Linked DNA regions of Homo sapiens: region 2 is linked to region 1. The links come from fine-mapping of genetic effects on gene expression. A gene starts in region 1. The other region holds a variant in brackets. All regions are shown on one strand. Distances are from middle to middle. Region 1 holds the start of GPR108 (G protein-coupled receptor 108). Region 2 holds the start of ACER1 (alkaline ceramidase 1).

Region 1 (2,907 bases):
GTTCACACCTTGTAAATCCCTTTGAGGTGCTGGAATGAAAGAGGAGAGGAGGCACTGGGGATTCCCACTCCCATTCTCTCCGGGCTTTGGCGCTTTCTCTGCAGCCTCAGACAAGGCTGGGCGTCTTGCAGGGGGGCCCTTGGGTATACGTTCCCCTTACACAGAGCACCCAGGCTCCCAGAACAGAGAGATACAGCTGAGCCCAGGAGGAGAGCCTTGGGAGCCCACACTGGGACTGATGTCTCTGCTGAGACCTGGCCCCACCTGCTGGTGGCTTCTGAGCTAGAAAATGTCTGATTGCAGTTGGGCAATTGAACCCAGTGAGTTCTGTGGCTAGTCTCAAATGGGGGCTCAGCCTAGCAAAGTTCTGAGTTCACCTCTGCTCAGAGACTCAAACTGGAATTGGGGTTCAGTCCAGGTCAGCACCACCGTGGGGATAGGGGATAGAGGCCAGAGGCTTAACCAGAAGGATTAGCAACCCGGTAAGGGGTCAGGTCCAATCTGGAGTCAGGGCTAGTCCAGATCGGTGGCCTAAACCAGAGATTAAGCCTCAGTGTGTGGTGTGGGGGACGAGGGGGTGTCAGAGTTTCAGGCTGAAGTTAGGACTCAACTTGCAGAGAGGGAGTTCACCTGGGGTCAGAGTTCAGCCCGGAGTCCGGTCTAGCCTGGAATCTGGGGGTGGGGCTCCAATTGCCTCACTCTGGAATAAAAGGCTTAGCCTAAGGCTGGGGTCTCAGCCTGGGGTCATAGGTCATCCTAGGGTCAAACTTTAACCTGAGGCCAGCTTTAGGCCTCTCTGTGGACCAGGAAGATTAGGAAAACAGGTCAGGCCTGAACAGATGCGTGTGTTTACCAAAAGCCTCAGCTCTGGCTGGGAGCCACATCCCTGGCTCAAGAAGAGGAAGTCCGTCCTTGGGGATACTGGGAAAGGTAGTTTATTTAATGCTTTGTGGCCCTTGTCTGCTCCCGCTGCATTCTGGGTAATGTAGTCCCGGACAGTTAAGAGTGGGTGGAGAAATTCCGCTTTAAGGGCCGGATATCAGATCCATGACAATTGGTTAGATAAACTGCTCATTAAATCACATCCGGACAATCTTTATAGCGATTGGTGAGAGTGAGCTGGGGGTTAAGCGTTATCGGCTCTCCCATTCGGAACCGGTGCTGTCCGTCGGTGACGCAAGCAGGCGGGCTTGCGGAGAGGCAATTGCTGATTGGTTGGCGGACTGGAAACTCCGAAAGGCCGGGCCCCGCCGTGCGGCGATTGGCTCATCGGTGGGCGGGCTTGGGCGCCAGAGGCGGAGTCGGGGAGGAGGTGGCTCCAGAGATGGCAGTGAGCGAGAGGAGGGGGCTCGGCCGCGGGAGCCCCGCGGAGTGGGGGCAGCGGCTACTTCTGGTGCTGCTGCTGGGTGGCTGCTCCGGGCGCATCCACCAGCTGGCGCTGACGGTGAGGCCCGCCGCGCGAGGGTCTGGGGTCGGTGGCGCAACTTTGTCTCGGAGAAGCCCCCTGGCTTGGAGTGGTCTCGTCCGCCCTCCCCCGTCCCCGAGGCGGTGGAGTGGTCCGGCGCCCCCCGTTTCCGGGCCCGGAGTGGTCTCGTCCCGGGATCCCCTTCGGTCCTCCGGATGGAGTTGCCGGGTCCGCCTCGCTGGGGTCGGCCCCCTCCCTTCGGGGGCGAGGCTCCATCTCTTGGGGACTACACCCCCCTTCCCCCCAACTGGGTCTTAGTCCTTTAAATTCTTGGAATCACTTTTGGGGCGCTAGAGACCCTGGAGCCGCACAGCGGGGTCCTGGGGGGCTATAGAGTGGGGTCCTCTGGGCACTTAATGGGATTTGGGGGGTTCTGTTGAAATATTGCTGGGAGCTCAACTGGAATGTAAAAGTTCTTCGGGAAGGTGAAGGTCAGGCACGCCGAGGTGAATAACTGTTCTCCGGGCGGTGCTCACCCCAGTGGGGAGACTTCCAGGTGCCGCAGGATCTCTGTTCCTGGGTTCTCAGAACAGAGGTCGGAGAATGCAGGACCACCCTTCCCCTGCAGGGAGGAAGTCCCTCTCAACTTTCTCTTGTCATCCTCTGGGCCTGTCCTAAATAGAGGGGTACCAGGAGGCCCTTCTGGAGGTCCTCGTGCCAGACCCCTGGGGCTGGGCAGGCGGAAAGAGGTCTGAACTGCCTCTGCCTCCTTGGTCTCCGGCAGGGGGAGAAGCGAGCGGACATCCAGCTGAACAGCTTCGGTTTCTACACCAATGGCTCTCTGGAGGTGGAGTTGAGCGTCCTGCGGCTGGGCCTCCGGGAGGCAGAAGAGAAGTCCCTGCTGGTGAGGGACCTTGAGGAGTTTGCTGGAGGAGAGCACGGTGCAATCCCCCGGTTCTGGGTTCCCAGCTCTGCCGCTACCCATGTGATCTTGTACAAGTCCCGTCATCTCTCTGAGCCTGTTTCGTCATCTGTACCTGGGAGTAATGATGTCTTACACAGGATGTGCTAGGCACTTTTCTTAAGACTTGGGGGACAGGCGGGGCGCGGTGGCTCAGGCTTTGTAGTCCTAGCACTTTGGGAGGCCAAGGTGGGAGGATTGCCTGAGGCCAGGAGTTCAAGACCAGCCTGGGCAACATAGTGAGAACCCCGTCTCTACAAAAAGTTTTTAAAATTAGCCGGGCGTGGTGAGGTGTGCCTGTAGTCCCAGCCAGTCGGGAGGCCGAGGTGAGAGGATCGTTTGAACCTGGGAGTTCGAGGCTGTAGTGAGCTATGATCCTGCCACTGTATTCCAGCTTGAGAAACAGAATGAGGTCCACCCACCACCCCAACTCTAAAAAAGAAAAAGAGCGTGTGGGATCTAGCACATGTTAGGTGTTCAGTAAATGTGAGGTTAGGTTTCTATTGCTACTGAAAGGGATAGCTGGGAGGTCTCTACTGTC
Region 2 (2,907 bases), 410 kb after region 1:
CTGGGGAGCGGCCCAGCAGGTTTTTCCTCCCAGTCTGCCTGCCGCGGGGCACCGGGCTGTCCTCTCCCCGCCTCATCAGGGCCCAGCCTTCCCAAGCTCGCCTTCTCTCTGCCGGGCGCAGCCGGCTGGTGGTGGCCACTGAGACAAGATGCCTAGCATCTTCGCCTATCAGAGCTCCGAGGTGGACTGGTGTGAGAGCAACTTCCAGTACTCGGAGCTGGTGGCCGAGTTCTACAACACGGTGAGTGCGTGGGTGTGTGAAGGAGTCTCGCCAGATGCCGGTTCGAATCCCGGTTCCTCCCCATACAGCCTTACTGGGGAATCTTGCTGGAGTGGTTCACCTGTCTCAGCCCTAGTTTTCTCATCTGTTAGCCAAAGAGTGCCAGCTTTCATTCATTTACTTGTCTTTACTTGATGCCAAGCTCTGTGGTAGGTTTTGGAGACACATTGGTGGCCAGGAAAAGAACCGGTCTCTGCCTTCCCTAAGCTAACTCTGATGTGACTGCAGGCATTTGCAACCGGGAGCGATGGTGCCTTCTTGGAGGGCACAGAGGCAGCTGTGGTAGGGGGAGGCAGAGGGTGCCCCTGAGCTAGAGGGGGTGGGCCAATCAGGAAAGGCTTCCTGGAAGAGGTGATTGTGTCTGTCTTGTTTGCAGCTGTACCCACTGACCAACTTGTCCCAGTGTGCCTGGGACTATCCTGGTTTCAGTATTTAAAAAGTTTCACCTCTTGGCTGGGCGCGGTGGCTCACGTCTGTAATCCTAGCACTTTGGAAGGCCAAGGTGGGTGGATTGCCTGAGCTCAGGAGTTGGAGATCGCCCTGGGCAACGTGGTGAAAGCCCATCTCTACTAAAATAAAAAATTAGCTGGGTACGGTGTCAGGCATCTGTAGTCCAAGCTACTCAGGAGGCTACGGCATGAGAATCGCTTGAACCCAGGAGGCGGAGGTTGCAGTGAGCTGAGATTGTGCCACTGCACTCCAGCCTGGGTGAAAAAGCGAGACTGTCTCAAAAAAAGAAGAAAAAAAGTCCCACCTCCTGAGAAACTCCTCAGTTCTGGACATTCTGAGGTGGTCTTCTCTTTCCCTGTTAAAACACCACATGGGAAGTGCTAAAAAATCATGGATGTACCTAGCACCATGGCTCATGCCTGTAACCCCAGCAATTTGGAACGCAGAGGCAGGAAGATCGCTTGAGCCCAGGAGTTCCAGACCAGCCTGGGCAACATAGCAAGACCCTGTCTCTACAAAAAGTTTTTAAAAATTAGCTGGGTGTGGTGGTGTGTGCTTGTAGTTCCAGCTACTTGGGAGGCTGAGGGGGGAGGATTTCTTGAACCCAAGAAGTGGAGGATGCAGTGAGCTGAGGTCATACCACTGCACTCCAGCCTGGGTGACAGAGGGAGACCCTGTCTCAAAAAAAAAAAAAAAAAAAAAAGGCCGGGCGCGGAGGCTCACGCCTGTAATCACAGCACTTTGCGAGGCCAAGGTGAGTGGATCACCTGAGGTCAGGAGTTCGAGACCAGCCTGGCCAACATGGTGAAACCCCATCTCTACTAAAAATACAAAAATTAGCCAGGTTTGGTGGCAGGCACCTGTAATCCCAGCTGCTTGGGAGGCTGAGGCAAGAGAATGGCTTGAACCCAGGAGGCGGAGGTTTCAATGAGCCGAGATCGCACCATTGCACT[C/T]CAGCCTGAGGGACAAGAGCGAGACTTCGTCTCAAAAAAAAAAAAAAAAATAGGAATGCACAAATGATCACGGCATTTAGCCAAAGCTTAAAGCCAAAGATCAGTGCAGCTATGCCATGCCCATACTGGGTGCTGGGAACACAGAGGTGTTTGCCTGGAGCCCTGGGAATGATGGGATCCAGGCATAGTGCTTAGTTCTTTTGTTTGTTTGTTTGTTTGTTTTGAAACGGAGTCTCGCTTTGTCACCTAGGCTGGAATGTAATGGCGCGATCTCGGCTCACTGCAACCTCTGCCTCCCGCGTTCAAGCCATTCTGCTGCCTCAGCTTCCCGAGTAGTTGGGATAACAGGTTCCCACCACCACGCCTGGCTAATTTTTGTATTTTTAGTAGAGACAGGGTTTCACCATGTTGGCCAGGCTGGTCTTGAACTCCCGACCTCAGGTGATCCGCCCACCTCAGCCTCCCAAAGTGCTGGGATTACAGGCGTGAGCCACGGCGCCCGGCCTCGTAGTGCTTAGTTCTATGCCCTGCACATAGGCCTTGCTCAGTGAGCAGAAGAGTGCTTGCTGGCTGGGTGCTATGGCTCACGCCTGTAATCCCAGCACTTTGGGAGGCCGAGGGGGGTGGATCATGAGGTCAAGAGGTCAAGACCATCCTGGCCAACGTGGTGAAATGCCGTCTGTGCTAAAAATACAAAAAATTAGCCAGGCATGGTGCCGGGCGCCTGTAGTCCCAGCTACTCAGGAGGCTAAGGCAGGAGAATCACTTGAACCCGGGAGGCAGAGGTTGCAGTGAGCCAAGATTGTGTCACTGCACTCCAGCCTGGTGACAGAGCGAGACCTCATCTCAAAAAAAAAAAAAAAGTGCTTGCTGTGTACCAGGCATGACCCTAAACATTTTACGTGAAACACCTCCTTTAATCTGCACAGTGACATGGGGAGTTAGATGCAATCTATATGATACAGACTTCATCCCATTTTCCAGGTGATAAAACAGGTGTTCAAGGAGTTTGAAGGCTGTGCCCAGGGTCACCCTGGTTATTAGAGCCAGGATTTAAACTTGGTGAGTCCAGGAGACTTTTCTGGGAGGAGAGTCCGAGGCTCAGGTTGCTCTGACCCTGTTGCCTTTCACCCCGGGGCTTCCCATACCTGGGAAGTGGGATTATGAGACTCCAGGATCCTCACGGTCTCACTGATTCTTGCTCTTCCTTAGCCAGAGATATGG

The links. PIP is the estimated chance that this variant, and not a neighbour inherited with it, causes the effect.
Region 2: its variant is fine-mapped to the expression of GPR108 in adrenal gland (GTEx, PIP above 0.99).

What each region holds. Positions count from the first base shown.
Region 1 is chr19:6,735,994-6,738,900 of GRCh38, reverse strand. It overlaps GPR108 (G protein-coupled receptor 108), which reads left to right and starts at 1,321. Exons shown (of 18, transcript NM_001080452.2): 1 at 1,321-1,444; 2 at 2,190-2,309. The coding sequence starts at 1,325. MIR6791 (microRNA 6791) reads left to right here and starts at 2,123; the gene lies at 2,123-2,189. RefSeq lists enhancers at 1-664, 797-856, 2,297-2,446 and silencers at 1,347-1,406, 1,507-1,676, 1,825-1,986, 2,352-2,506.
Region 2 is chr19:6,330,793-6,333,699 of GRCh38, reverse strand. ACER1 (alkaline ceramidase 1) reads left to right here and starts at 88. Exons shown (of 6, transcript NM_133492.3): 1 at 88-241. The coding sequence starts at 149. The variant C/T (reference allele first, on the strand shown) is at 1,684.